7 linked regions of the Homo sapiens genome follow. The protein of the gene in region 3 purifies or fractionates together with the protein of the main gene of each other region. This does not show direct contact. Each region holds a gene or a part of one and is shown on either strand. Other genes may lie near its edges.

Region 1 (3,500 bases), on a different chromosome or scaffold from region 3:
TTTTTTTTTTTGTGGAGACAGAGTCTCTCTCTGTGGCCCGAGCTGGAGTGCGGTGGCTCAATCTCAGCTCACTGCAACTTCCGCCTCCTGGGTTCAAGCAATTCTCCTGCCTCAACCTCCCGAGTAGCTGGGACTACAGGCGCCCGCCACTAAGCCTGGGTAATTTATTTTTTTAATTTTTATTTTAGTAGTGACAGGGTTTGGCCATGTTGCCCAGGCTAGTCTTGAACTCCTGAGCTCAGGCAATCTGCCCGCCTCAGCCTCCCAAAGCACTAGGATTACAGGCATGAGACCACGCCTGGCCCTGGCCTGATTATTTCTTTAGGACAGATTGTCAGAGGTGAAATTTCTAGGACAAGGTTTATGAACATTTTAAGAATCTTGTTTCATATTTCCAGATTACTTTCTTTTTCTTCTTTTTTTTCATTTTTCTTTTTTTTTGTTTTTCGAGACAGGCTCTCACTCTGTTGCCCAGACTGGAGTGCAGTGGTGTAATCACGGCTCACCACAGCCTCAACTTCCTGGGCATAGGTGATCCTCCCACCTCAGCCTCCTGAGAAGCTGGGACTACAGGCACGTGCTACCACACCCGGCTAATATCTTATATTTTTTTTTTATAGAAAAAGATAAAACCATGTTGCCCATTCTGGTCTCAAACTCCTGGGTTCAAGTGATCCTCCCACCTTGGCCTCCTAAAGTGTTGGGATTATAGGCTTGAGCCACCGTGCCTGGCCTCCAGATTACTTTCTGGAAAGAGTGTACTAATTTCTACTCTCACCAAAACTTTGAGAGTACGTGTCTCTATATGTTTTCACTAGGATGAAAGGATTCAGGATTATTCTATGTTTTTTATCATAGAAGTTTAATAGGTAAAAATTCCATTGCTATATTTTTTGGAAGTAATGTCATGGTGACTATAAAATCCTCTCTTGATGCGACAGCTTGAGATAGAGCCACACTGGTAGTGCTTCTGATTTATTGTCTCTGTGTGTATGTGTCTATCTGTCTGTGTGTCTCTCTCTCTGTCTCTCTTGATTCTTGTGGCTATACTCTAATTTCCCTTTGACTAATTCTTCCTGTCCAGGAATGACACTGTGCGCTTTGCTTTGGATGTCCTGGCTATTCTTACTGTGGTGCCAAAAATCCAGCTCCAGTTGGCAGAATCAGTGGACGTGTTGGATGAGGCTGGATCTACAGTCTCTACTGTAGGTAGGTTGTACTTTGCCATTTTTGTTGTTTCTTGGTCTGGATTTGTTTTTTCTTTGCCACTCTGGTCTTGGTTACTTACCTGACCTAATTTTGGATTTTAGAACAGAAGTAGTAGAGGGGGGCTCCTTGTCTGTCCTTTATAAGGAGTACCATTCAGCAGATCAGGAACTAATTTAAAAAAAAAAACCAAAAAACAAAAATACAAATGTAGGACCAGATAGTTTGATGTAAGGGAGTCATGCTAGTAAACTCAGGTTTTCTGAGTGGTACTGGCATTTCTGCTATAATGGTATATTATAGCTTTCCTGAAAAGCTCACACTCTGAAGAGTCTTGCACTAAAAATAAAGTTCATGGGAAAAATGGGTTGAGGCAGATAGTAAAAAACTTAAGCATCACAGCTTTCCAGGAGTTAAAGGGAAAAAAAAACAACAAAGTAAGCAGTTTTGTAACCTGAGTCAGTAATTGGCAGGTAGCTCAAAATGGGTAGAAACCGTCATACATATATAAAAAAAGGAAAATATACTTTGATAATATACTTTATTAAGAGCAAGGCTGATCAGGGCACTGCTGGGGTGAGCATGGGAAGTCGTGTGATGGGACAAGATGCAGGATAGGACTAAGACACAGGCACTTGGTTTTTAATTTTCTTAAAATAGAGTGGAAAGGGTTCTGCTTCCACAGTAGCAGCCCAACCGAGGGCTTTCTCCGTTCCTAAGGTTTTAGTGTATTAAAATTAATAAACCAGAAAAGGTCGAGCACAGTGGCTCACACCTGTAATCCCAAAACTTTGGGAGGCCGAGGCGGGTGGATCACCTGAGGTCAGGAGTTCCAGACCAGACTGGCCAACATGGTGAAACCCCACCTCTACTAAAAATACAAAAATTAGCTGGGCGTGGTGACAGGCGCCTGTAATCCCAGCTCTTTGCAGGGATGAGGCAGGAGAATCACTTGAACTCGGGAGGCGGAGGTTGCAGTGAGCCAAGATCACGCCACTGCACTCCAGCTTGGGCGACAGAGCGAGACTCTGCCTCAAAAAAATAATAAAACCAGAAAAAATTGCACATGAACCTTGATTACTTTTCCATAATTATGACATGATTTCCCTATTTAATAACTGCATATGAGATACCATAAAAATACATTGTAGTAGAACTGTCTGCACTTTATACAAACCCTTGCAGTTTTTACAAAAGTAATATAGTTTTTTAAAGTAAAAGTGAGTAGAACACCAAATTTTGACTCTGGAACAACTATTGAAGTTGGCCATTAGTTTTATGGTGAATAATACATAATTTTTTTTCCCATTAGGTATCAGCATTATTTTGGGAGTGGCTGAGGGTGAGTTCTTCATCCATGATGCTGAAATTCAGAAGTCAGCACTTCAGATTATCATCAATTGTGTGTGTGGCCCAGATAACCGAATATCCAGTATTGGTAAATTTATCTCTGGTACTCCTCGGAGAAAGCTGCCTCAGAACCCTAAAAGCAGTGAGCACACCCTGGCCAAGATGTGGAATGTGGTTCAGTCCAACAACGGCATCAAGGTGCTCCTGTCCTTACTGTCCATTAAGATGCCCATCACAGATGCAGACCAAATCCGGGCCCTGGCCTGCAAAGCCCTAGTGGGCCTGTCTCGCAGTAGCACTGTCCGGCAGATCATCAGTAAACTGCCCCTTTTCAGCAGCTGCCAGATCCAGCAGCTGATGAAGGAGCCTGTGCTGCAGGACAAGCGCAGTGACCATGTCAAGTTCTGCAAGTATGCTGCTGAACTCATTGAACGGGTGTCAGGAAAACCACTTCTCATTGGCACTGATGTTTCCCTAGCACGACTGCAGAAAGCAGATGTTGTTGCCCAGTCAAGGATCTCCTTCCCTGAGAAAGAGCTGCTTTTGTTGATACGAAACCATCTTATTTCTAAAGGGCTTGGAGAAACAGCAACCGTGCTGACAAAAGAGGCTGACCTGCCCATGACTGCTGCCTCCCATTCTTCTGCCTTTACCCCAGTCACTGCTGCTGCTTCTCCTGTCTCTCTACCCCGAACCCCTCGTATCGCTAATGGCATTGCAACTCGTCTGGGCAGCCATGCTGCTGTGGGTGCCTCTGCGCCTTCTGCCCCTACTGCTCATCCTCAGCCACGGCCCCCCCAGGGTCCGCTAGCTCTGCCCGGCCCATCTTATGCAGGCAACTCCCCTTTGATTGGTAGAATCAGTTTTATCAGAGAGAGGCCATCACCCTGCAATGGCAGGAAAATCAGAGTGTTGCGGCAGAAGTCGGACCATGGTGCCTACAG
Region 2 (3,500 bases), on a different chromosome or scaffold from region 3:
GGTAAAACACAAAGCCACTGAACAGTATTATGCCATGAAGATCTTAGATAAGCAGAAGGTGAGTGTATTTGTTGTTATTTACCTTCAGGGTAAACTTTAGTTTTATCAGCTAGACTATTAAACAGATTCAGTATAATGACTTACCATTGACAGCTTCAAATAATTTTATTATTAAATTTAATTTTTATTGTAACTAAATTTTTATTGTAACTATATTATACATAGTTAGTATACAGTCAGCCCTTCCATATCTATGGGTTCCACGTCCATGGATTTAACCAATCACAGATTGAAGATATTTGGGAAAAAAATTACATCTATACCTAACATGTACAGACTTTTGTTTCTTGTTATTATTCCCTAAACAATACAGTGTAACAACTATTTACATAGCATTTACAATATATCAGGTATTATAAGTAATCTAGAGATGATTTAAAGTATATGGACAGTGTGTATAGGCTTTATGCAAAGCCTCTGTCATTTTATATAAGGGACTTGAGCACCTGGGCATTTTGGTTTCTGCTGTAGGTCCTGGAACCAACCCCCAGGGATACTGATGGACAACTATAATTTATTGTGACAATTATGGACTAATTTGTTTTGTAACTATTACAGAAGTTAAAATGTGTACAGTAGTGATCCAACCACTTCATGTTACAAATTTTGAAAACCTGAGGCCCAAAGATTTGAAATCATCTCAAGTCAGAAAGTTAGTTAAATAAAAGGCCTAGATTAAAACACAAATCTGACTCCTACTCAATTTATTTGCTCAATATTATCAGTATACTCCTAATTTTATATATTAATACCTGGCTGGTATCTTTAATTACTTTTGTTATTTATATTTAACTTCTTGACTTCTGTGACTATCCTCACATTGACCATTAGACTCCAGCAAGAAAGAATGCCACCTTCTAATGATTTACACATATACAAGAAAATTATTTATATGTCTTGCTAAAGTCACCACTTCTTAAATTCAAAATAGAATCACATATGGAATAGAATCACAGTCTTCGTGAAGTCAAGATAAATTACTTTCCCCTTCTATTAAATAGAAAATCTAGAGGAAGCTTAAGTCTAAATGACCTAGGATACAAAGATAGTTTTTGTTATAAAGATAGTTTTTTCCCCAATATTTTGTGTGTCCTCTTCTATGGCAATATAAAATAAATTTTTAGAATTTATACCTATATTTATTTAGATATTATAAAATGAAAATTGTTCATTTTTACTCACTATTTTTCAGTTATGGACTTTCTCTTCATTTTTAATTTTCTTATTCATCTTCTGAAGTATTTAAAATCACTATCTACTTATTGCAGAGATTTGAGCCAGCTTTTATAGAGGACTTTAAGTCATTAGGACCTTAGTATTTTCACATTCATTTTTAAATTACCTTAAGTAATTATATATTTATTTAAGCATAATTGACATAACTAATTTTTAAAGTAATTTCTTATGAGTTTGTTTCTTATTCCTACTTAGCTCTCACTTCTTAATTGAAACCATAATTGACCTTCCTAAGACCAAGTTTTAAATCCTCTATTAGGTTTTCATTTGAATCCTATTATTAAAAGTAATGGCAAAAACCGCAATTACTTATGCACCAACCTAAAAGTTGGTAATTGTTATTATCTTCCTTATCCAATTCTAACAATTTTGCTTATCCAAGTTTATTACTATATGGAAAACATTTTTTTAAATGATAACTTTTTAATTTTGCTTAAATACATTAAGAGATATTTATCTCTCAATTACAGGTTGTTAAACTGAAGCAAATAGAGCATACTTTGAATGAGAAAAGAATATTACAGGCAGTGAATTTTCCTTTCCTTGTTCGACTGGAGTATGCTTTTAAGGTAAATTTTAGTAATATCTAAATAAGATATTTTCAACCTAAATTTTTTTTAAGATGAAACTATAAATGGATTCTAAACCAGATGATAAGCCTGAAGAATATGAATAAACAAAACGAATACCTCTAGAGTTTGTGTAATTAAATCCTATTGTGCTTATAACTTAGGTAACGTTTGAAAAGGTTTTGATTCTCCCTGGGGAAATTGTTCAAAGGTGATACTCATGAGATGGTATTACAAAAAGAAATATTTCAATTTATCAAAAACCATAGGGATATCTTAATAACAATTCTTATGCAAATTCATACACCCAACACATTTTCTACTTTGATTAAGCCCTTTTTGCCACTATCTCATCTTCTTTTACTTAGTAATTTGAGTTCTAGTCTTTTCACTTATACAAAGCAAAATTTTTGTTCCACTATTCAAATGTCTGAAAAATTGTACCACATTTATTATTTAAATTGGTCACTTTTGAGCTCTTTGGAATGATACTGGCATCTCTCTGCAATATTGAATCATATGAAACATTTTAATCTTTTTTCTCCTTTATTCTTTAAATTAAATGAAGACCTATGTATTTAAAATATTAAAACCATTAATCTTTTATACATAAAATGTAAATATTCTTATTAACTTTTTAAATTGTTTTTTACCTTTGTTATTCTTTTGCATATATTATAACGTTACTTCATTGCCTGAGTATTTAATTGTTTGAGAACTAGATGTTCTCTGCAAGAAAAGGAAGAGCAAAAGTCCCAGACTAGTTTGTGGCAAAAATAACTAGGAGGGGAAAAATATGAGTGTCTCTGTATAGAAAAGCTAGAGCATGTTCCATTTATTCTTTATTTCTCAAGGTTATTAATCTGTCAGAGAGATTTTAAATTTTTCTAATTCAGCATTATATAATATTAAAATAATTTTGACCTAAGTTGAATAATTGTATTTCCTTTTTATTTGTTCATAGGATAATTCTAATTTATACATGGTTATGGAATATGTCCCTGGGGGTGAAATGTTTTCACATCTAAGAAGAATTGGAAGGTTCAGGTAACTAATGGTTTTGCTTTCTTCAAATCTTTATATGCTTGTGTTGTTTAACCAGATTTTTAAGTTGATGCCAATGCCAAAAACTTATTTTGTTTGATTAATATTTTGGCCATATGAAGCATTAGGTGGAAACAAAGAGGCCACATCATACACAAGTTTTAATATAAAGAATATAAAAATTTAATATAAAAAAAGGACTTTGAAGCCAATTTAAATGTTATACTACTGCTAGATATTGTGAGGGTCCACTACTTGAAGAGTTTTCAGAAAATGGAAAAATTAATTGAATTTTAAAATATCAATATTTATTAAACAAAGATTAATAATACAACTCCAGGACAGAGGATTGTTTTAAGGATGAAGATGGAAAATAAATATATAGAGAAATAATAATAATAGTATTATGGTAATAAGATTATAAAAGTTTGTTTTTCACAAATTTAATTCTCCTTAAAGTTCTTGCTAAGTTTAGTTTTTAAAATATACACATAATTTAACGGGAGTTTGTACCTCATCAGGTTATGACTAATAAGATCTCAGAGTTATTAAAATAGGTTATAGAATCTGATGGTTTTACCTGTACTTAAT
Region 3 (3,288 bases):
CCTCATTTTATGGAGGAGTAAGGTGAACAAGGTGGGCTGACCCCGGAGCCCACGCACTTGATCCTGCCACATCCTCGGGAAAACTTCCCCAGAGCCCAAAGGGGAACTCCCTCCTGCACTTGGTCAGGGCTCTTGGCTTTCTGTCCTCTGGAGCACAGATGTTCATGCCTGCATCTACCTCCCTCACCATAACTAAGGTCAGCGCTGAATGAAGCCATCAGGGTCCTGAAACTGATCATGGTGACACTGGATTTTAGGCAATCTACAAGGCTATCTAGGAGACTTAGGGCAGGTTCCCCTCATAATTCAGTCTACCCCTCATAATTCAGTCTACTCTGAGTAGGGAACACTATCAGCATCATGGGATTGTGACAAAAAAGCATAAGATGGTTTTCTGGTGTGTTGGGGTTGTTTTGCCTAAACTATCTGCTCCTGTTTTGTTTTTCATTTCTCCTTCATTTAGGACTTAAAGATGGAGGAAGCTATGAGCAATACAGGTATTTCGTTTTATTATTAAAGCCTAAACAAAGTTCTCCTATCTTGGCCCATCCTTCAGTCTCATCTCTGTGAGTCTGCACCTGTTATCTTGAGAAACTGCCCTTCCCTCTGGTCTGCCCGAGACCAGGATCACCCACCAAAGATAGGTGTCACCTAGGAGACCTTCTTTGTATAGTTCTTTGGGGACTTTTTCTTTCTTGGTGATGGTTAACATTCATTCTCCTTTGACACTTGAAAACTTAGGCAGTTTCAGCGTCGAAAGTGGCCAGAAATGAAGAGACCTTCTTCCAAATCACTGTGAGTTGAGGAACCAGCTTACAAATAGAAATCTGGTTCTGACCGCTTCATTTTGCCAATGCTATTCTATTTGCATGCCATTTCTTACATACCACCCTTTGTTTGTTCTCATGATGAGGGTGGGGGGGAAGTACTAATGCACATCTTTCCCTAAGAAAACACTTGAATCCATTTCATGTTTTAGATTAATGCCTTGTCCAGTACACTGCTGTTCTCGCTATAATCTGTGCTTGGTAAACTTGAGCTATTACTTAGAGGTTGAGAAGCATTTAAATATTACAAATTGCTAGGCATCTTGAAGGCTGTGGCTACAAAAGTGCTAACTGATATACAACATCAGTAGTAGGATGGCCTCATTAAATGGTTTCCAAAAAGCCCATGCTACAAACTCTCACTCCAGTGCCATTGGAGGCTGACAGGGACTAAGAGACTGGCAACCTGTAAAGTTCACCTCTATTCTAAAGGGAGCAGGCCAGTTTGCTCCCTGCAGGAATGGGCTGAGGTTCGCCAGATTTTCTCATTCGTCTACCAAATCCAAAAATGCAAGTATGTGTGAGAATTCTTTATCATTATCATCTAATTTGACATTAAGTTAACCATGTGGGCAAATTATCGCCCTTGGTGAACTGCCACTTGCAACCTCTGGTCTACTCATTTCTTCCTTTATATGCATATAAACCTGTGTGGCTTTAATAGGACATTAGTAACAGGTCACCTAAGCCTTTCTTCGGTGCTTCTAGAATTAAGGTACAGAATCTTTACATATCACAATCTCCTTAGCCACTATTCTGTCCAGATCCTTAAATGCCATCCTTGCCAGGCATTGGGTGTATAAGTAAACAAAAAATTGAGGTGACTAGGTGGTGGCAATCCCGTTCTAAGTAACCTAGAAATATTCATTCTCAGCAGCCTTGAAGCAAAGCTTCCTCAGCTATAGGACCGATTAGGAAGTCATGATAAAGACCATGATAGCTAAGTGCTAAGATGAGTTTGTTTTGTTCTTTAGGGGACAACTGTGGGAAGGCTGGGAAGGTTAAGAAACAACAGAGGTGGACCTCCAAAAACATAGAGGCATCACCTGACTGCACAGGCAATGAAAAACCATGTGGGTGATTTCCAGCAGACCTGTGGTATTGGCCAGGAGGCCTGAGAAAGCAAGCACGCACTCTCAGTCAACATGACAGATTCTGGAGGATAACCAGCAGGAGCAGAGATAACTTCAGGAAGTCCATTTTTGCCCCTGCTTTTGCTTTGGATTATACCTCACCAGCTGCACAAAATGCATTTTTTCGTATCAAAAAGTCACCACTAACCCTCCCCCAGAAGCTCACAAAGGAAAACGGAGAGAGCGAGCGAGAGAGATTTCCTTGGAAATTTCTCCCAAGGGCGAAAGTCATTGGAATTTTTAAATCATAGGGGAAAAGCAGTCCTGTTCTAAATCCTCTTATTCTTTTGGTTTGTCACAAAGAAGGAACTAAGAAGCAGGACAGAGGCAACGTGGAGAGGCTGAAAACAGTGCAGAGACGTTTGACAATGAGTCAGTAGCACAAAAGAGATGACATTTACCTAGCACTATAAACCCTGGTTGCCTCTGAAGAAACTGCCTTCATTGTATATATGTGACTATTTACATGTAATCAACATGGGAACTTTTAGGGGAACCTAATAAGAAATCCCAATTTTCAGGAGTGGTGGTGTCAATAAACGCTCTGTGGCCAGTGTAAAAGAAAATCCCTCGCAGTTGTGGACATTTCTGTTCCTGTCCAGATACCATTTCTCCTAGTATTTCTTTGTTATGTCCCAGAACTGATGTTTTTTTTTTAAGGTACTGAAAAGAAATGAAGTTGATGTATGTCCCAAGTTTTGATGAAACTGTATTTGTAAAAAAAATTTTGTAGTTTAAGTATTGTCATACAGTGTTCAAAACCCCAGCCAATGACCAGCAGTTGGTATGAAGAACCTTTGACATTTTGTAAAAGGCCATTTCTTGGGAGTTTTTTGGTGTGTCTGTTTTTTTAAAGTATTCAAGATACTACCAGTCAACATCTTTTTGGAAGAAAATGCCTTGGGTTTAGAAGATTTTCTTAAAAGGGGAGTAGATGGTTGTAGATTGACTAAAAAGTCTACCATACTTCAAGGGACTACAGGTAAGTCTCATAGTATACCAGCTTTGGTACTTCATTTTTTAAAAAAGTATTAATCAATTGCAAAGAAATTCGCCTTGGCCAACCCTTCTTTGTGTATCAGGTAGTCTAACCTGATACAAGTAGTTGACAGATTTCAACTATCAATCACCAGTCCAACCCATTTCTCATTTAACAGATGACGGAGATAATCCCTAAAAGCACCCACATTTGTTTCAATGCCCCAAACAGGCCAAGGCTCCCTAGCAACTCCCTAGTGGCGTTTTTTAACTTCTCAGAAACTGTTACCATTATTTGAAATAGGCTTCCTTAACCTCCTTTACCCTTAACCCAACAGGGATTTAAAAAA
Region 4 (3,500 bases), on a different chromosome or scaffold from region 3:
GCCCTTCTAGAGAAGGACCAAATGCCCTCTTCTGATGTGGCTGCTGTTGAGCTTCCTGTTTAGGGGGTGAAACAGGGAGTGGCAGGAACACAGGCCGAGTTTAGTGTGGCCTAGGAGATGCCATTGTCTTGGGGGTTTGGCCAGACTGCCAGCCCTGGCCATCCTCAGGACAGCAGAGGAGAGCGAGCAGCAGCAGCGATGTTGGGACACCTTGTTTCTCTGAACCTTCCCTGTCGTGCAGAAGCCAGAGTGGTTTTCAGAGGCAGCGCCATCGGAGCCTGCTGTTCCTGCCTGTCTTCGGCTTCATCTGGTGCGCCTGCTCTGGGCGTGAGTTTATTTTCCACACGGAGCATTTGGAGGCGCTCAGAGACAGCAGGCACATTTTGCAGAGCGAGCCTGGAGAGACAGCAGGCACAGTATGCAGAGCGAGCCTGGGGTGGCAAAATTGCATTTACTGAGGTTTTTATTTTTTCACTCCCTCAAGGATCCCTTAATTGGCCAAAACCAATTTCAGACAGCCAGTGTACCACTGGCCAGCTAAGCAGACCTGAGCCCCTCAGCGCTGGCCTGGCCTCCTGCCTGGAGGGACAGGGAGGCAGGACTTCTCGCCCAGGTGGATCCCTCCCTTTGCTGTGCTGGAGTCTTTTTGCTCAAGTTATGATTCCCTCTGGGGAGTATTCTGAATGAATGCTGCTCTTTGGTTTAGAGGAAGAAAGAGGAGAGAAATGAAATAGCTTTGTTTCTTCCCCTCTAATTAGGGAGGACTCAAAGTAATAAAACTATTTCTTTAGAAAATTTTCACTACATGGATATTTTGTGAACTGAGGCACCATTTCAAATGACTAGGCCTTTACTGTATCTAATATTAAGAGCCTTAAAGCTCATTGTAGGAAAGGAAGGTTTTCGGTCAAGGTGGTGTGGCTGTGGTTGTGGATTTGGAGAGTTCTCTCCTGTCTGGTTTGGGTGTGTCAGGGTCCTGGCTGGGTTGTATTTTGTGGCAGGAGCCCACAGCCTCTGCCCAGAGGGTTGTGGTTGGATTTAGGCACCTGGTGGGAAGACTCTTTCTCGCCTGTTGTTTCTGAATGAGTGTCCCCTCCAGCAGTCTGCAAATCCTCCACCTACCAACAGGCCTCCTTTTTATCATGGTTTTGCCTGTGACTCCTTTCTTTGGGGCTCCCATTGTCTCTGTGAGGTGAGTGCGTTCCCTTAACTTCAGCATGTGGGTGAGATGACCGAACACGAGGTGGCATCTCACCGTATTATGAATTACTCAGACAAGCAAAGTGCCTGTCCAGCACATTTCCCTTTTTGTTTCAGGTCAGTTTGGCAAATGTTTACTGAGCACTGTGCTGGGAAGCTCCAGGGGAGAAAGGATAGATGCGACACCATCTTGTCCTGTGGTCTTAGAGGCTTGTCCAGTACAGGGAGTGAAAGCCTGCCTATAATTCAAAGTAGAGGACGATCAGGCCCAGGGTCAGGAGGAACCAGAGGAGGGAGGGTGCCATCTCAGAAAGCGGGGTTCCGGGCAGGGGAGGAGTTAGCAGAGGCTTTGGATGGGTGAAGTATTCGAGACGGACTTGTAGGGGCAGCCAGGATCTTGATGGGTTGAGAAAAACTTACGGGAAGGAGGACCCTGAGCAGAGACATGAGGGACGGGAGTTGCTGCAGGTTTAGGTGTTAGGAAGGAGGCCGGGTTTTGTGGTCTGCAGGAAGGGCTAACTGGGGAGAGATCTTGAAAAAGCCTTTGGAGGAGAGGGCCTTGTGGACTTCTCTGAGGATTTCAAGATTAACCATAGTCATCCAAGTCTTTGTCTTCTCTTTTTTTTTTTTTTGAGTTAGGGTCTTCCTTTGTTGCCCAGGTTGGAGTACAGTGGCATGATCTCGGCTCACTGCCTCCTGAGCTCGGGTGATCCTCCCACCTCAGCCTCCCAAGTAGCTGGGACTACAGGTGCACGCCTCTACGCCTGGCTAATTTTTGTATTTTTCTGTAGAGATGGGGTTTCGCCATGTTACCCAGGCAGGTTTCAAAAGCCCTGGGCTCAAGCGATCGGTCTTCCTTGGCCTCCTAAAGTGTTGGGATTACAGGCATGAGCCACTGCACCTGGCCCATACAAGTCTTACTGACAGTGAAGAGATGCAGCCAGGGCTGTGCGTTATCATTACGAACGTTTTTCTGGCAGGAGGGTTCCAGAAAACTGCGAAGTAGTAAGAACCTGAACTTGGGTGGTAGAGGTGGAGGGTGGAAAGTAGGGTCTATGATCGGGGAAACTGTGACACAGTGACTAGAGATGAAGAAGCCTTTGGGTAAGGTGGGAAGGATGAACGCTGTACTTACGCAAGATGAGCTGTAAATTCATTAGCTTGTTGACCACGAAAGAGTTAGGTGGCTTTACTTTTTCATTACCACCTTAGGCCTAATATTGGGCAGAACTTTGAGGATGCTTGCATTGTTGAGAAGAGAGAGGTCATCTTAGAGTGAGTGGAATAGAGTTGGGGGCATACCAAGCACCAACATTCTGGACAGTTGTGCTGTGGTGCATGTAGGATGCCAGTCAGGAGTGACCATATGGTGGCCGCACCAAGCCCATAGTGGGTAGCTGCTTCTACACACATGCATACCTGCATGTGTACCCACACACACATGCAAAAGTACAGATCCTGACACTGGCGTGAGGCCACTGACACCCTGGTGTCTCTAGAGAGTTCTAGAGAGGTTATAAGACATCACAGTGTGTATTACACAACTTGTTAATCAAAGGAAATGCTTACCTCAGCCAGCAAAGAGTCTTCGTGACTTGTTTCCTATTTTAAAGGTGTTTATTTGAGGCATTCACATCGTCTGAATCTGGTAAGCAAAGGCGTGGTTAGCATGTTCAGGCTCACAGATTTCCCTGATTAAAGAAAATAGAAGGAAACATCTACTGTGCGAACAGTTATTTGCCAAGATTTCCTTAATTATTCACATGAAATAAATGACATCAAGTGATACACAGAATGTGACATGAGTTGTGTTTTCAAAACTGCCTGTTAGGTAAAAGGAATAGAAACATAAATTCCCCTTCATAGGAGAAAAATGATAATGCCTAACTCTTTAAGAGCATTGCTGGCTGGGCGCAGTGGCTCACGCCTGTAATCCCAGCACTTTGGGAGGCTGAGGAGGGTGGATCACATCACCTGAGATCAGGAATTCAAGACCAGCCTGGCCAACATAGTGAAACCTCGTCTCTACTAAAAATATAAAAATTAGCCAGGCATGGTGGTGTGCGCCTGTAGTCTCAGCTACTTGGGAGGCTGAGGCAGGAGAAACGCTTGAACCTGGGAGGCAGAGGTTGCAGTGAGTCAAGATGGTGCCACTGCCCTCTAGCCTGTGCAACTGGAGCAAAACTCCGTCTCAAAAAAAAGCATTGCTGGTCGGGCGCGGTGGCTCATGCTTACAATCCCAGTGGGATTACAGCCCTGGGAGGCCGAGGCAGGTGGATCACCTGAGGTCAGGAGTTCGA
Region 5 (3,500 bases), on a different chromosome or scaffold from region 3:
AAAAATGCTAATGATCATCTGAGTCTTTAGAAAGTTGTCATCTTTTTGCTGATAGGGGGATCTTCCCTCAATATTAATGGCTGACTGATTAGGTTGGTGATTGCTAAACGTGGGGGTGGCTATGGCAATTTCTCTCTTTTTTTTTTTTTTTCTGAGACAGAGTCTCACTCTATCCCTCAGACTGGAGTGCAGTGGCACGATCTGGGCTCACTGCAATCTCCGCCTGCCGGATTGAAGCAATTCTCCTGCCTCAGTCTCCCGAGTAGCTGGGATTACAGGCGCCTGGCTCATTTTTGTATTTTTGGTAGAGATGGGGTTTCACCATGTTGGTCAGGCTGGTCTCAAACTCCTGACCTTAGGCAATCCGCCCACCTCGGCCTCCCAAAGTGCTGGGATTACAGCCGTGAGCCAACGCGCCCGGCCAGGCAATTTCTTAAAATAAGACAACCATGAAGTCTGCCACATTGATTGACCTTTTCACAAAAGATTTCTCTGTAGCATGTGATAGCATGTTACCAATGGCAGAACTTCTTTCAAAACTGGAGTCAATCCTTGCCAACTCTGCGGCTGCTTTATCAACTATGTTTATGGAATATTCTAAATCATTTGTTCTTATTTAAACAATGTTCACAGCATCTTCACCAAAAGTAGATTCCATCTCAAGAAACCACTTTCTCTGCTCATCCAGAAGAAACAATTCCTCATCCATTAAGTTTTATCATGTGTTTACAGCAATTCAGTCATAACTTCAACCTCCACTTCTAATTCTAGTTCTCTTATTTCTACCACATCTGCAGTTACTTCCTCTACTAAAGTCTTGAACCCCTCAAAGTCATCCAGGAGGGTTGGAATCAACTTCTTCCAAACTCCTGTTCATGTTGATATTTTGACCTCCTCCCACAAACTATGAATGTTCCTAATGGCATCTAGAATGCTGAATCCTTTCCAAAAGTTTTTCAATTGACTTTGCCCACATCTATCAGAGGAATCGTAATTTATGAAAGCTATAGTTTTATGAAATGTGTTTCTTAAATAGTAAGAGTTGAGAGTTGCAATTACTCCTTGATCCATGGGCTACAGAATGGATATTGTGTTAGCAGGCATGAAAATAACATTTATCTCCTTGTATATCTCCATCAGAGCTTTTGGGTGACCAAATGTATTGTCAATAAGCAGTATATTTTGAAAAGAATCTTTTTTTTTTCTCAGCAGTTCTCTACAGTGGACTTAAAATATTCAGTAAATCATGTTATAACAGATGTACTGTCATCCAGGCTTTCTAGTTCCATTTATTCAACATACGCAGAGTAGCATAATTCTTAAGTATTCTTGGATTTTCTGAATGGTAAATGGAAATTGGCTTCAACTTAAAATTACCAGCTGCATTAGCCGCTAGCAAGAGAGTCAGCCTGTCCTTTGAAGCCAGGCATTGACTTCTCTCTAGCTATGAAAGCTCTAGATGGCATCTTCTTCCAACAGAAGGCTGTTTCGTTTACATGGAAAATCTGTTTAGTGTAGCCACCTTCATCAATTATCTTAGCTAGATCTTCTGCATAACTTGCTGCATCTTCTCCATCAATCAGCACTTACTGCTTCACGCTGCACTTTTATGTTGTGGAGATGGTTTCTTTTCTTAAACATCACGAACCAACCTCTGCCAGCTTCCAACTTTTCTTCTGCAGCTTCCTCACTTCTCTCAGCCTTCGGAGAACTGAAGAGAGTGAGGGCCTTGCTCTTTGATTAGGTTTTGCCTTAAGGGAATATTGTGGCTGGTTCAATCTTCTATCCAGAGCACTAAAACTTTTTCCACATCATCAGTAAGGCTGTTTCACTTTCTTATTATTTGTCTGTTCACTAGAGTAGCACTTTTAATTTCCTTCAAGAACTTTTCCTCTGCATTCACAACTTGGCTAACTGCTTGGCACAAGAGGCATAACTCTTGGCCTATGTCAGCTTTCAACAGCCTTCCTCACTAAGCTTCATCATTTCTAGCTTTTGATTTAAAGTGAGAAATGTTGAACTTTCCTTTTCACTAGAATACTTAGAGGCCATTGTAGGGTTAACTGGCTTAATTTTAGTATTGTCCCATCTTAGGGTATAGGGATGCCCAAGGAGACGGAGAGAGATGGATAAGTAGCTGGTCAGTGGGGCAGTCAGAACAAACACAGCTTTTTTTATTATGTTTGCTGTCTTTTATGGATGTGGTTCATGGCACCCCAAAACAATTACAATAGTAACATCAAAGGTCACTGATCACAGATCATCATAACAGATATAATAATGAAAAAGTTTGAAGTATTGTGAGAATTACCAAAATGTGACACAATGACACGAAGTGAGCACACAATGTTGAAAAAATGGCACTGAAAGGCTTCCTTGAGACAGGGTTGCCATAGACTTTCAATTTGTAAAGAACTGATTATCTACAAAGCACAATAATAAAGCTCAATAAAATAAGGTATGCCTGTATTTCACTGGTTCATCTGTATCACTGATTTATAAAAGTATCTATCCAGACACACTCTTTGTGCAGTACTGAGGACAAAAACCTTTTCATTTGCAGGATGTTTGGTATTATAAGAAGTCAGTTTCCAGCACTAGCACATCTACACTAAGTTACTGTTCCTTCCCTAGACTCTTAGTTAGTGGGGCTGAATCAGTCATTTTGACTTAGAGTTTTAGAACTCAATTTCACATCTAATTCTATAGAATCTGGCATTAAAAAATCAAAATTTCCCTAACTCCCCAAAATAGAAATTATGAGATGGTGAAAAAACAAAAGCCATTAGGTCTTGCTAAGATCTGGTGACAAAGTACTTCAGTTAGACTCAAAAGACCTACATTTTCATCAGTTTTCCCACTCAGAGTGTGTCCTTACTACACAAAACTGTGCTCTGGCCTAAAACAATATAGATTCAAATTTCTAAGGAAAATCATCTCCAATTAAAATCACATATAACTCCTCACTTCTATATTGAAGTCAAGAGATTATGTTGTATTTTAAAGATCCCCTATAGCCCAGGCACGGTGGCTCACATCTGTAATCCCAGCACTTTGGGAGGCTGAGGCGGGTGGATCACCTGAGGTCAGGAGTTTGAGACCAGCCCGGCCAACACGGCAAAATCCCGTCTCTACTAAAAATACAAAAATTAGGTGGGCATGGTGGTGTGCACCTGTAATCCCAGCTACTCGGGAGGCTGAGGCAAGAGAATTGCTTGAACCCAGGAGGCAGAGGTTTCAGAGAGCCAAGATTGCACCACTGCACTCCAGCCTGGGTGACGTCTCCAAAAAAACAAAAAAAAAAAGTTCCCCTACAGATATGAGATTATGGGTACATTTTTCTTTGATTTCCATAATGATTATTGCGTAACCATAACAATATTAAACTTTTAAAAAATCCTCCCATTTCAGCAGGAGACAACTTTGGGAAATAACAGAAATATTCTATAACCTGATTTGGTGGTAGTCACACAAGTATATACATTTGTTAAAATTTATCC
Region 6 (3,500 bases), on a different chromosome or scaffold from region 3:
CATTTTCTCTGCCACCATTTCCTTTGTTTTCTTTCTTTTTTTTTTTGAGATGGAGTTTTGCTCTTGTTGCCCAGGCTGGAGTGCAATGGGGCGATCTCGGCTCACTGCAACCTCCGCTTCCTGGGTTCAAGCAAGTCTCCTGCCTCAGCCTCCCGAGTAACTGGGATTGCAGGCATGTGCCACCATGCCCAGCTAACTTTGTGTTTTTAATAGAGATGGGTTTTCTCTATGTTGGTCAGGCTGGTCTTGAACTCCCGACTTCAAGTGATCCACCTGTCTCAGCTTCCCAAAGTGCTGGGATTGGAGGTGTGAGCCACCACGCCTGGCTCTCTGCCACCATTTTCAAGAGTATTGCCATCTGCCTGAGCAAACCTGGTTCATCACCACCTCTTTGCAAGAGAAAAAGGAAGTCGGGAGAATTGTGTGTAATTTTTTTTTTTTTGAGATGAAGTCTCGCTCTTGTCCCCCAGGCTGTAGTACGATGGCCCGATCTTGGCTCACTGCAACCCCTGCCTCCTGGGTGAAAGCAGTTCTCCTGCCTTGGCCCCCTGAGTAGCTGGGATTATAGGTGCCTGCCACCACGCCCGGCTAATTTTTGTATTTTTAGTAGAGATGGGGTTTCACCATGTTGGCCAGGCTGGCCTAGAACACCTGACCTCAGGTGATCCACCCACCTCGGTCGGCTGTGTGTATTTTAAGGCAAAGATTCACAACCAAAAACAAGGCTTTATTAACTTTTGTATCTAAGAACCTGCAGTGTCGAGCCCTCTTTTATTCCTAGTATTACTACTTTAGGTGTGAACTTTTTATCTTTATTTTACTGATTCCTCTAGAAGTTTATGCATTTTCTTGACTGCTTTAAAGACAATCTATATTGTATCATTTTTCAAGCCCGTAGAAATGTGTAAGGCCTATAATTTGAACACTTGTTATTTTTAAGGTTATGAGCATGTAATATACCATTGATACATGGAAGAATATGTATAAATACCACTAGATAGGTTATATTGAAGAGATAATATCTAAATTTTTGTCCAGAGTTGATGGGGTGCAGTTTTGTAGGTGTGTTTCTCAATACATTGTGTCCATGTTTTAAAGCATATAGAAATTTGAATACTGTTTAACCTCATATAGTCCTTGTTTATAGGTTTAATATTTCTAAAGACTAAAGACGTCACAGCTCCCTTTAAGATTCAGTAATACTAATAAAATTTGAGATATACAGGGTTAGAGTCCAACAAATTCAAAGGAAAATTGTTGAATTATATAGCCGTAGAGCAGGAATGAAACCCAGGTTCTAAGTTCCAAGGGGGCCATGAGCTACCATACAGGTGCATCAGTGACTGGGCATAGAGTTGGCAAAATTATTTAAGAGAGTGAGCTGTGGATCCTAATTATGTGAACATGAATTTTTGAACTGCATGGTGCCTCAGTTTATCCATCATTACAGTGGGGACAGTAGTAAGTTTTTCTTTTTCTGCTCAGTTGTCTGAATTATTACCCCAGTCTCTCTTGTTGCCACTCTTGATGCCCACATGAGAGGATCTAAGGTAATTTCTGACAACCTGGGACTCCTTAAGGAAAAACAGAAGGTTCCACAAACCCCATTTTAGGAGAAACCTCTGTTTTCCTCATGGAACCCCAAGAACTTTAAGCAGACAGGTCCCTCTCAAAAATCTAAGGCTCTCCTCTGTTTTGCCTTGCGTTGTCTGACCTTTTTGGTTTGGATGGGCATCAGAAATTAGTAGGGGAGAGAGATCTAAAGAAAATTGTGGATATGAAGATGTATTTATTATAAGAAATGTTATGAAGGAAAGAAATGTTATATGAGAGAGGATCTTATATGGCAAATTGTTGTCCTAAAGTAGAATGACTAATTACAAAAGAGGGAAATACAGGACAGGTCAGATAAATTTAATCATGTCGTAGATAGTCTGTGGAAGTTGTGTTATGGTTCATAAAGTGGGAAAGAAAAACTGAACAACTGCTAGATCTTTTCTTGTCTAGAAGTGTTGTGTATGTGATGTATATATAATGGCTCGGCTTAAAAGAAAATGAAAGCTCTTAAATATTTTGTAAGAAAAATAGAAGCTCTAATGCCTTTTATTTCATGTGACTTCAGTAATCTTTGGGAAATAAAGATGGTGTTAAAGTCAGTGGTAAAATAAAAATATCTTCAAAATTTATCCATTTGGTCTAATTTAAGTCAGAGGTTAAGTTTTAGAAGTGCTTTAATGTCATAAATTGATGCTTTGACTTTGGAAAATAGTTTTGTTTACCTGGTTTGGAGCCGTTAGATTTCTAGGTAAGGTCTCCGGACAGGTGGAGTTAGCCATGTCTCCTAGCTATGCTGGAAGGAGTCAGATTTTATCTGCAGTTCTGTCTTGTATCCTAGACTCTGCACCTGGTATGCAATTAAAACTTACTGCTGCTGCTAATCTCTGGGTTCCATTTAAAATCCTTCCATCACATGAATACTATCCCCTGTACTAAATTTTTCCACAATTAAATACTTAGAATCATTTTTGCTGACTTGACCCAACCATTAGTGATATATTTTAAAAATGCTTATAATGTGTCACAATATATTTAGCAAATGTAGGGAATGACATTTTTACTTTCTTCAGCATTTACATAGCATTTATGTAGCAATGCTATCTCAAGTATTTTTAATCATTTAAACGTTAGATAATAGATATGTTTTTGATTCCTTTTTTCTATGTAAATAAATATAATTATGAGATATTTAGTAAATAGTATCAATTGCATATGTCACTTACAGAATATACAATGCAATTAGGATTATTTTTATACACTACATCATATTTACTTGTTGGCTTTACAATAACTTAGAAATAGTATTCTGGATTAACTGTGTGACTCATGAGAGAGGGAGTTTGTGCAATTATAGTCTTTACAAATTTTTACTAGATTTTTCAAGACTTACGCTAGAACTTTGAGAACAAGGTAATAAATAAGCATATCTGTTAATATCACCTTTGGTCAACTCTTGGCTAGACCCAATGATAATGTAGGAATTAACATAATTTTTCTACTAAAGGTGTTGGATTTGTTCCGAGAGACCACAGTTCAAAGTCATTGACAAAGAAAGTTTAAAAATTGTTAGATTAAAACCTTTTAGTGTGTTTGAAATTGTTTTGTAGAAAAATATCCTGGTTTGCATTGATAGGTTTTTTTTTAAATAACAACTAGACCAAGAGAAAGGGAGAGTAGTGATAAATGTCCATGTTTTCGAGTTGAAAAGTAACAATCAGTGTATTACAACAGATGGATTTGATGTCAAATTACAAATGCTGAGAACGTTATATGTAACTGACTTGCCAGAGTAATTATACAAGGCAAAGAAAGGAAAGGCATCTAAATAGGAAGGGAAGGGGTGAGATTGTCTGTGTTTTAGACTCCACAAAAAACCCATTACAGCTGATAAACACTATATTCAATAAAGTTGAGAGTTACAAAATTAACATTGGTTTCCATAC
Region 7 (3,500 bases), on a different chromosome or scaffold from region 3:
TAATTAGGATAGAGCAGAGTTTCAATGAACAATCTGGAAAATCCAGAGAGGCTTCCAGAGTGGTGAAGGGCACTGGTTTCCAATCCACACCTCTGGGCTACTTTAAAAATACAGGCTCCCAGACCAGCCCTAGACAGAACGATGTAGGATCTCAGTAGGAAAGACGCATTTTTAAAAGAGCTCATGGGATGGTTTGGGGGAACCACTGGTATAGTTGGAACAAAATTTTGCAATCAGATCTAGGTTTGAATCTTGGCTCTGCTCCTTGCTAGGCCTATAACCTTGAGCTAGTTACTTAACCTCCCTGAGTCTGTTACCTCATCTGTAAAATGGCATCCCATTTTTCTGCAGCAGAACTACAGGGATTAAATGAGCTCACAGGCAAAAAATTCTATCACAGTTTCTGGCACAATATGTGATCAATGGCTATTTGCTGGTCCACAGCCCACACACACTCTGAGCATGCAAACAACCCACGGAAAGGCTCAAGAGGAAGGCGTGAAAATGTGTTGCGATCTACAGCTGCCCAGCCCAGCCCAGGGGTACTGAGTGTAGAGACAGCTTCTCAAGCAGGGGCCAGGCAACCTCTGCTATTGCCCAGCAGAGCAGTGCAGCCAGATTCCACTGCCTTATCCACTGAACAGATATACTGCTCCCAGCTTTTTCTGTGTGACAGAGTCTTGAAATACATAGTGCAGAGTAGTAAACTAAGAAACAATCTGCTGTCTCCCACAGAGCTCACAGAGACCATGACACCCAATAGGTGCCAAGTATACTGTTTGTTGATTGCAAAAGCTCTCTGAGAAAGAAATGGGCTGCCCTAGAACACAGAGTACCTGAGCCCCTATCAAATAGAGACTGGATGAGCACATAGCAGTGACTCCGGGGACATTCAAAGTCCAGCCCTGGGCCTGGATTAGAAGGCACCCGAGATCTCCTTTGGGCATGTGATTCTGTAATTCATTAAGTATACTAATGGGAAAACAAAGCTGCCTATGTTTTCTGCTGGAATATAGGGGTAGGTCAGGGGTCCAAGAAAGCACCACCAAAAACTTAAGGAAAGTGACACTCTTTCCAGAGCCTTCACAGAGGAAGCAGGGCTGGGCAGGGCACTGGCTTACTGGCGTTCTGTCCTGACAGCTTCAGTTCCAGCTCTTGCACCTGCTTGACCAGCAGGGAGATGTGCTGGAGCATGTCCTTGTTCTGCAGCAAAAGCTGATGCACGCGAGCCTGGGCCTCCAGCCGCGCCGCAGCCTCAGCAGCCAACTGGTCCTTCAGCAAGTGTACCTGCAGAGAAGAGGCAGCGGCAGAGAAGACAGGACAGAGAGAAGAGAGGGACATGAATGCACATGAGAGTCACTGGCAGATGGCCGGGACCAGAGATGCCCTCCACATTCAGTTCAAGAAGAAGCCCTTCACGGGCAGCATGGGCATCTGGGCTTATCATTCCAGAGGAGGAGCCAAAAGGAGTGGGTTCACTGGCACTGCGAAGCTGTGTGTCCTAAGGGAGGGCCATGATGCATCACTAAGGTACCCATACCAAGGGCAAGAGGCAGGAAAGAGCCATCGACCCTCTAGACCTGCCACACACACACACGTACACACACACGTGCACATATACACACACACACGCACGGTGCTCCATCCCTGCTTAGAGAACTCCTTCAGCACCTAGCATGGCATGCCATGTTGGAGGTGGAAGGGGGCACTCTCTTCTCATCCTGTCTTCTAAAAAACAAAACCAAAACTCATCTATTGACCCACTGGCTAAGAACAGTGTCACAACGAAGCCCATATAATCTTTCTCCCTCTCCCACTCACCCAAACATAGTGAGAAATAGGAAGCACTACACATGGCTTTTTAAATTAGTGAGGCAGCTGTCATCAAGCCACTCTGTAGGCGACAGCTTCTTTCCCTGTCTTCCTTTTTTATTTGCTATGGCAGACATCTAGGACCATGATTCATACCACATATTACCAGGACCACCTGGTAGGGGTCAAACATTTGCTGACTGATTCATGAGAGGGCCTCCTCCAACCAGCCCAGAAGGGCTGAGGTGAACAATTTGTGGCACCCTCATCAGTTTCCAACCTTCTTAAGGCAGAGCAGTTGGCAGCAATGCATTCAGCATGCTTGAGGCCCAGTGGTGTCAACAGCTCTGTTCTTGGTGAGCAATACTTATGTGGAGATAAAACTCAGTGGGAGGAGACAGGGGCAACCAGACCAGGACCCTGGTTTGAAGAAACTGAGTTAGAAGGCCAATACCAGTGTTCACACATATGTGATTCTTGTGCAAAGAAGTGAATAAAGAGTTCTCCAGGGAGCATTTCAGAAGGCCCCTGAAGAAAGGGAACTAATGAATTTTTATGGCCTGGACCAATGTAGCTTATGGGGAAAAGGGTGTTCTTGTACCAAAACCATGGTGTGGGTAAAGACAGAGCCAGGTGAGTGGGGGCAGGAGAGGTGGGACGAGGATGCAGGAAGATGGATGGGGAGTCAAAAGCATTAGCTGATTCCCTTGCTCAGAAAACAAGTGCTCAAATTTCTGAAGAGGAGTTTGCTCCAAAGAGATTCACATTTTTTTAGGGAGTAAAGGGCAGTGCTACCTCACAGTTGGCCACCCTTGGCCAAGTGACTTGCTGGCCCAGGGTGTGCCCCTCCCAGCAACCAGCACTCAGAGAATTACACTTGTGGATACCGTGGCTGCCTCCCTCTTGCCCAGATTGGAGGCCCTGACCTTGCCGTTGACCCTATTTCTGATTGAGTGGAGCCACAGGGGCATAATGCCTAAGGAATTTAAACTAAATCTGTCCTCCATAAAGCTGCTAAGGACAGAACTGATATTTTGGTCAAGAAGTCAGACTCATTTTTTTGTCTCATATTAATTGAGAGAAGATCTGGGGAGGGGTGAGAACAGGTGTGATACAGTGAAATACATGTTTGGTCTTCATCCCTGTTTCCTGACATATAGCTCCCCAAACCCTTGAGATCTCCAGAGTGGTAAGAGTGTTTTTTGTATGCTTATTAGATGATTAGTGGTTGGGGAACCCCTGGAAGCTTCGGGATGGGGGCTGCTCACAGGACAGACCAAGGTATGATTAGAGGATAGGATTTTTCAGTCCCACGCCCCAACCTCCAGGAGATGAGGGGCTAAAAGTTAAACTAATCACCAGTGGCCAATGATGTAATCAATCATGCCTACATAATAAAGCCTCCATTAAAAACTCAAAAGGACTGGGTGTGGGGAGCTGCCGGGCAGCTGAACATTTAGAGGTTCCTGGAGGGTGGTGCACGTTGGGAGGGCATGGGAGCTCTGCCACCCTTCCCACAGACCCTGCCCTATGCATCTCTTCCATCTGGTGTTCATTGGTATCCCTTATAATATCCTTTAAAATAAACCAGTAAATGTAGGTGTTTTCCTGAGTTCTGTCAGTTGCTCTAGCAAATCAGTTGAGTCCAAGGAGAGGGTAGTGGGAACACCAATTTATAGCCACTTGGT

What was found.
Region 1: the proteins of SULF2 (region 3) and DCAF1 purify together in Homo sapiens (co-immunoprecipitation; 2 studies listed by BioGRID and IntAct, with this or other methods). This does not show direct contact.
Region 2: the proteins of SULF2 (region 3) and PRKACB purify together in Homo sapiens (affinity purification with mass spectrometry; one large-scale study listed by BioGRID and IntAct). This does not show direct contact.
Region 4: the proteins of SULF2 (region 3) and TXNDC11 purify together in Homo sapiens (affinity purification with mass spectrometry; one large-scale study listed by BioGRID and IntAct). This does not show direct contact.
Region 5: the proteins of SULF2 (region 3) and UBR1 purify together in Homo sapiens (affinity purification with mass spectrometry; one large-scale study listed by BioGRID and IntAct). This does not show direct contact.
Region 6: the proteins of SULF2 (region 3) and POTEE purify together in Homo sapiens (co-immunoprecipitation; one large-scale study listed by IntAct). This does not show direct contact.
Region 7: the proteins of SULF2 (region 3) and NOS1AP purify together in Homo sapiens (affinity purification with mass spectrometry; one large-scale study listed by BioGRID and IntAct). This does not show direct contact.

The regions. Positions count from the first base shown.
Region 1 is NC_000003.12:51,420,016-51,423,515, reverse strand, and holds part of DCAF1 (DDB1- and CUL4-associated factor 1), read left to right. Parts: intron 1-1,084; coding exon 1,085-1,209; intron 1,210-2,518; coding exon 2,519-3,500. UniProt on the Homo sapiens protein: Acts both as a substrate recognition component of E3 ubiquitin-protein ligase complexes and as an atypical serine/threonine-protein kinase, playing key roles in various processes such as cell cycle, telomerase regulation and histone modification.
Region 2 is NC_000001.11:84,182,271-84,185,770, forward strand, and holds part of PRKACB (cAMP-dependent protein kinase catalytic subunit beta), read left to right. Parts: coding exon 1-58; intron 59-1,766; coding exon 1,767-1,865; intron 1,866-2,829; coding exon 2,830-2,912; intron 2,913-3,500. UniProt on the Homo sapiens protein: Mediates cAMP-dependent signaling triggered by receptor binding to GPCRs.
Region 3 is NC_000020.11:47,656,906-47,660,193, reverse strand, and holds the end of SULF2 (extracellular sulfatase Sulf-2 isoform a precursor), read left to right. Parts: intron 1-463; coding exon 464-497; intron 498-741; coding exon 742-795; intron 796-1,801; coding exon 1,802-1,832; 3' UTR 1,833-2,788; downstream 2,789-3,288. UniProt on the Homo sapiens protein: Exhibits arylsulfatase activity and highly specific endoglucosamine-6-sulfatase activity. It can remove sulfate from the C-6 position of glucosamine within specific subregions of intact heparin.
Region 4 is NC_000016.10:11,694,358-11,697,857, reverse strand, and holds part of TXNDC11 (thioredoxin domain-containing protein 11), read left to right. Parts: intron 1-3,500. UniProt on the Homo sapiens protein: May act as a redox regulator involved in DUOX proteins folding. The interaction with DUOX1 and DUOX2 suggest that it belongs to a multiprotein complex constituting the thyroid H(2)O(2) generating system.
Region 5 is NC_000015.10:43,096,039-43,099,538, forward strand, and holds part of UBR1 (E3 ubiquitin-protein ligase UBR1), read right to left. Parts: intron 1-3,500. UniProt on the Homo sapiens protein: E3 ubiquitin-protein ligase which is a component of the N-end rule pathway. Recognizes and binds proteins bearing specific N-terminal residues that are destabilizing according to the N-end rule, leading to their ubiquitination and subsequent degradation.
Region 6 is NC_000002.12:131,212,536-131,216,035, forward strand, and holds part of POTEE (POTE ankyrin domain family member E), read left to right. Parts: intron 1-3,500.
Region 7 is NC_000001.11:162,363,191-162,366,690, reverse strand, and holds part of NOS1AP (carboxyl-terminal PDZ ligand of neuronal nitric oxide synthase protein), read right to left. Parts: exon of another isoform or gene 1,342-3,500; coding exon of another isoform or gene 1,288-1,341; coding exon 1,122-1,287; intron 1-1,121. UniProt on the Homo sapiens protein: Adapter protein involved in neuronal nitric-oxide (NO) synthesis regulation via its association with nNOS/NOS1. The complex formed with NOS1 and synapsins is necessary for specific NO and synapsin functions at a presynaptic level.